Linked DNA regions of Homo sapiens. The protein of the gene in region 1 purifies or fractionates together with the protein of each later gene. This does not show direct contact. Each region holds a gene or a part of one and is shown on either strand. Other genes may lie near its edges.

Region 1 (3,500 bases):
CATGGTTAAATTCCCAGGACCCTCAGTTCTTTAGGGATGGACTAAATGGCTGCTATCATTGCTTATCTTGTACTTGATGGAGCTTATGTTGAGAAACAATGTTTATGTTTTTAATTTTTTATCGTTTAATTCCATTTTACCACAAACTTTTTGAAGTTCCATCATATTTGTGTGAGTTTACTCTATGCCCTTTTGTGCGTGTATCTGTGAGTATCTTGGTGTTTGAGTGTATTCATGTGTGTTTTTTTGTGTGTCTTGGTGTGTTCTTGTGTGTTACCGTGTGTTAGTGAGGTGCATTGCTATGTGTCTGGGGTATTAACCCACAAATGTCTAGGGGTATTGACATGGATATATCCAGCTTTGGTGTATGGTGATGGAGTTCTTGGGGCTCTTACCTGCCTTTGGGTCCTCTATGAGCTGCAGCAAGTCCCCAGGGTGCCCATTCAGTGTGAAGCAGATCTTCTCTTCTGAGTGTGGGATTTGGATCACAAAGTGGGGGTCCCCGTCCACTGCAAGGCAGAAGATACAACTCTAAAGTTAAAGGAATAAATGGAAGGGAGAGGGAAAGAGAGAGGAGGGAAAGGGAAGAGGTTATGTCTATTTCCCCAGCCCCAGTCCCAGTGCACAAGCTGCCCTGTACTCAAACAGGGGAGCCATGGGGGTGACTGGCTTACCTGAGGAGGAGAAGGTGAAGATGCTAGGCAATGTGCCTGCAAAGGAGAGAGAGACTGTGTTGGGAAGGGACTAATGTATCACATTCCTAGGAATTCTGGGACATACTCCCAGATAAGGGCCAAATTCCTGTGTTCAGCATTTAAGGCTTTTCTGAAATCTAGTCCCTGCCTAGCTCTCCAGTCTTTGTGCTCTAGCCCAACCAAACTATTGTTATGAGTGTCCTACCTTCTCTTCCTAGTGACCCTTTACTCCTGTTTTTCCTGCCACCTGGAATGTTTTCCTTTCCCTTAACTACCAAGGATGAATTTCTAGTTATCCTTCAAGGCCAGCCCAAATGCTCTTTTCTCTTGCTCTCTGCCTGTGGTAGGTAGAATTCTAAGATGGCCCACAGGATCTCTTGGTGTACACACTCTGTAAAATCTCCAGAGCTGTGAATATGATGAAATATCCTCCCAGAAATAGGTTATTTCATGTGACCCTATTGAACTTATGAAGGGTATATTATCCAGGTGGGGCCTGACCTAATCACGTAAGCCCTTAATATTTGTATCTAGAGGTCAGAGACAGAGGAGTCAGAGAAATTTAAAGTGTGAGAAGGGTTTGGCATTAGGGGAATGCTCCATAGCTGCCTTTGAAGATGGAGGGGGACCACATGGCAAGGAATGCAGGAGATTTCTAGGTACTGAGAGTGGCCCCAGGTAACCTCTTGCAGCTGAGAGCGATCCTCCAGCCAACAGCCAGCAAGAAAATGGGAACCTCAGTCCCAGCAACACAAATAACTAAATTCTGCTAACAACGTGAATGAGTGTGGAAGAGGATGAGAGCTCAGTGTGACAGACACCTTGATTTCAATCTTGTGAGATCCTGAGCAGAGAATCTAACTAAGCTATTTCTAGACTACTGACTAACAGAACTGTGAGATTATTAATTGGTGTTGTTTTAAGCTACTAAATTTGTGATAAATGTTACACAACAATAGAAAACTAATACATTACTTCCCTCTGGTCTCCCACAATGTCAATAAGAATTCTAATGGAATGGAAATGAAGGCCCAGGGGATCTTTGTCAGGAGAGCTCCTTGCTCACCTTTTGCTAACCCCACAGAACTTCCTTGAGATTCCATGCTGCCTCCAGCTCCTCCCAGGATCTCCTCAGAATTGCCATCCCAGTTTGGACTTCCTGCCAAGCACAAAAGAAATAAGAAAACCCTTCAAATTCCAGGGGCAAAGTCTCAAAATCTTTCTGACAAGGAGAGCCCTCACTGGCTCTGCAGGTTGACCTGCCCATCTCCAGGACTGGGACCTTATGCTCTCCACAGCCTCTTAATCTCTCAAGCTCAGATATGTTCAAAGTTCTTCCTTATAGCATTTATACATTCATTTGTCCATTCATTCATTCATTCATTCATTCAGGCATTGCTTAGGTATTAGGTATATGGTGGTGAAAAATAAAGACATAGTTTCTGACCTGGTGAAGCTCATAGTTTAGTAGGGGGTGGCAGACATGAATGAAATCATAATTTATCACAAATGGTGATAAATGCTATTGGAAAAAAATAATGAGGTGACTGTGGGAGTTAAACAGAGACCTGAAGTAGCCTGCTTGGGGGAGGGTGGGTAAGGAGATCTGAGCTGAGATCTAAGGCATGAGCTGGAGTTCGAAGGGCAATGGAAGGGATAAGGGCAGCAGGAAGGGGTAGGACAAAGCAGGTCAGATGATTATGAAGCAGAGACAGTAGCTTGAAAAAAGTCCCTGAGTGGAGATGGGGTAGGGTGTTCATTGGAGGGGCAAAATAGAGACCAGTGGGGCTGGAGTTCAGAGAATGGGTGGGAGAGAGTGAGGTCATAGAGGAATGGGGGTAGGGAGCAGATCATGCAGAGCCTGCTGGCCATGAAGAGGACTTTTAACTTCATTCTAAGTACGATGGGAAACCCTTGAGGGATTTTAAGTAGGGAAGGGGCATGAAGTGATTTGTGTCTTTAAAGGATCCCTTTGGCTGCTGGGAGAGACTGGCCTGTAACAGGACAGGAGAGGAAGCAGGGAAACCAGTGAGGAGCCTGGAACAGTTTTCTAGGTGAGACACAATGGTGGTCTGCTGTAGCACAGTGACACTTGGGGTGGTGGGAAGTGGATGGATTTGGTAAATATATTAGAGGTAGCATTGTCAATAACTGAGGATGGATAGGATATTGGAGGGGTGTCTGAGGAGAGAGGCATGTAGAGGATGTCATACCCAAATTTGCATCCCTGTGACTTAGGCACTCTCAGTGGGTTCTAATCCTGCCCTATAAGGTCACCTAGGAAATGTCACTCCTTCTCTTAGGAAGGCAGGATACTGGAGTGGTGAATCACATTCATTCTGTGACCAGATTGTATGAGTTCAACTCTCTGACTAGCTGTGTGACATTGAGAAACTTATTTTACCTCTCTGTGCTTCATTCTCCTCACGTGTAAAATGACGATGTCAAGAAAGAAAGATGTTTCTTGTGAGGATTAAATGAGGGACAAGTACAGTATGTAGAGCAGTACTTGTGCATAGGAAGAGCTCACAAATGTTAACTTATTATTTCATACTTTTTTTGGAAATTAAAGATAATTTTAATTATCTTCCCCAATTCTTCTACCCCTGTCATTAAGCAGGACTATTCACAGAGCACAGAAAAACCAATAAGACCCGCCTCATCCAATGATGCATTCCTCCCCTGCTTAGGAAGCATCAGCAATTCTTTTGTCCAACAAAACAAATGTCAAAGCTAACCCTTGGCCAATTTGTTTCTGTTCAGCCTTCCCAGTCTCAACACTCCTCCTCTCCCAAGGCCTCTAAT
Region 2 (2,641 bases), on another chromosome or scaffold:
CTTACTCTGAGGCTTGGCACTGGGGGCCAGGGCCTGCCCCAGGGCTCCTGGAATTTCCCTTGATCCAGCTAGGCTGGGACACTCCCTAAATCAGCTGCGTGTTGTTAGCATCAGGCAGAATGAATGGCAGAGAGTGATTCTGTCTTCATAGAGGGTGGGGTACTTCTCCATAAGGCATCTCAGTCAAATCCCCATCACTGTCATAAATTCAAATAAAATGTCTGAACAAGGGTGTCTGGATGTGAGCTGGACCATCTCAGGAGAGAACACAAGTGTGAGGCAGCTGCTGGCCCCTCACCTAGTCTGGGGTTCCTTTACCCTGTAATGGGGGGTGGGGGGTAGAAGATGGACAAGACACCTTAACAGTCCCTTTGGCAGTACTAGGCAGAAGAGGCCCATACTTGGGTCCAATGTGTGCAGCAGGCAAAACATTTTCCCTTCTAAATGTGGGCCCAGACCACTGCCCTGTCCCCCCCACATTAAGAAGCAGTAGCCACAGCCAAGTTTCAATCATTTAATTAACATCTTTAAATGAAACACAGTTTTCTTCATGTGTCTCACTCAGGCTTCAGGGCAGAGGGAATGGATTTTTAGACATATCAAAGACTCAAAAATTTAAAGAAATATATATATGTATATATATACTTCTAACATTTTATGGAAATTAAAAATCAGAGGCTTTTGGTCTCTCCATTTACTCTAGGTCAAGCTCATTTACCCCAGAGGACAAAGAAGGGCTGCCTCTTCTAGACCCTCCCTTCTCCTTTGTCCTCTGTCCCACCCAGCAGGGAAACAAGCTCAGAAGATCCTAACAGGATAGAGTTCCAGTAATGTTGGAGGAGGGAGAGGGAAAGAGAAGTCAGGTTCTCTCCCACCTCCAGCCATTCCCAGGTTGCTGCCAGGGCCTGGTTTCATGCAGCTTTGACCCAGTCCTGGATCCTAGGGGGTGGGGTAGATCAGGAGCTCTGAGCAGAACAGTGCTCACTGATTATCCTCTTTCCCCAACTCAGTGGGCAGGTGCAGCGTACACCCAGCAGCACTCTCCACTGCCCACAGGCAAGGGAAGAATATTGATTGATTAGCTACAAGGAGAAGACAGTAGTGACTAGTGGAAAACACCCTGGAGAGGGCCAGAGGAACCTGGCTCTCACCACATCCCCTCTGTTCCCAGCCTTGGTGAGGGGGCGGGGAGGTCATGTCAACCTCTCTCCTTGGTGGTGAAGCTAAAAGCAAGGTTCCTTGCCAGACTCAAGCCCAAGTCACTGTTAAGGAAAGAGGATCAAGAAAGAAGCGGTGGCCCTGGGGGGCAGCCACGCTGCTGTGGACCCACAGGGGCCAATGGGGAAGCCAGCTTGCCTAGACAGGTGGCACAGGCTGAAAATAGAAAGGTTAACATTCCCGGAGAGTACAGTAAGAGAGGCTGATACCTAGGGGACCACCACCCAGCCTGCCCTAGAAGCACTGGGTGCCCCTCATTGACTAGAGAAGACTTGAGTAAAATGCACCTGTGGCTTCCCATCCTTGTCACTCAGCGTTAGCTGCCCCCAGTGGAACCACCTGTGCTGAAAGGCAGCTGCAGAAAGGACATGCACCGAAATGAGGAGAGAGAAAGGTCAGAGAATGAAGTGTGGAGGGCCAGGCCTGGGCCCACTGCTCAAGGAAGCTCCCCCCCTCCAGATGCTCCCTTCCATCCACCTCCTCAGTGCTTGCTCAGCCCAAAGGCTCCTGCCTCTGAAGTGCTGGGGGCCCACCCACCCCAGTGTGGTCAAGGAGGCAAGGGGCAGGTGCTTGACACTGCCAAGTGCCCCGAGATGACTCTACTGCTCACCCATTTCTTTGGGCCCTGGCAGTCTCCTACTTGTCCCCAGCATGGAGCACCTGGCAGAACTGGAAGGCAGGAGGGTGGTTGGTGAGTTGAGGCACAGGAAGGCCAATCCCCTCTGCACCTTTTGTGCTTTGGAATTCCACAGCCCCACACCTGCCCCCAGCCTAGAGAAGCCTGTGGGAACACAATGACTTGGCCACCTTCAGGAACCAAGAGGAGTAAACTGGACTGGGCAGGAGGGCACAGACTGGTCCCAAGCTATGGGCTGACTGCCGGGGATGGATTCTGCTGCCATGTAAACAGGCCCTTGGAATGCAACTTCCTGGGCCCTGGAGGATGGCCATGCAGCCACTTTTCAAAAGTGCTTTGATTCTGGACTATAGTATGTGCATGGTTTGGACATGAAAAAAAATGAAACTCAGGTGAGGTGTCCTGCTCCCAACTCTGCAGCCTCAGGGCCAGCAGGGGGCGCAGCCACCCTCTCCCGCCAGCTACCCACTTCAAGATGAGGCTAAGGCCAAGACTGAAGCGGCAACTGCCAGAGGTGAACCCATTCGGGAAAAGGCATGAGCGCAGGATGACTCTGAGGACAGGAGCAACACCAGGCTTGCATAAGTATCGAAGGCCGTGGAGGTTAAGGCTGCAGGCGCCCTCTCTATTAGGTTGTGTCTGCTGTATCCTCTCGTCCTTGGAGCTGCTCGGGTCCCTGAGATTGTGTTTCTGGGATGGGTCAGCAGTGCCAGTGAGGTGCCTGGTGGTCAGGCCAGCTCTTTCTGTGAGTCTGGGGGAGAAAAATAAGAGACACTTAGCAAGGGG

What was found. The genes of interacting proteins can lie anywhere in the genome.
Region 2: the proteins of ITIH6 (region 1) and NHSL3 purify together in Homo sapiens (affinity purification with mass spectrometry; one large-scale study listed by BioGRID and IntAct). This does not show direct contact.

The regions. Positions count from the first base shown.
Region 1 is NC_000023.11:54,753,256-54,756,755, forward strand, and holds part of ITIH6 (inter-alpha-trypsin inhibitor heavy chain H6 precursor), read right to left. Parts: intron 1,855-3,500; coding exon 1,762-1,854; intron 711-1,761; coding exon 675-710; intron 510-674; coding exon 396-509; intron 1-395.
Region 2 is NC_000001.11:32,772,830-32,775,470, reverse strand, and holds the end of NHSL3 (NHS-like protein 3), read right to left. Parts: intron 2,607-2,641; coding exon 2,584-2,606; 3' UTR 501-2,583; downstream 1-500. UniProt on the Homo sapiens protein: Able to directly activate the TNF-NFkappaB signaling pathway.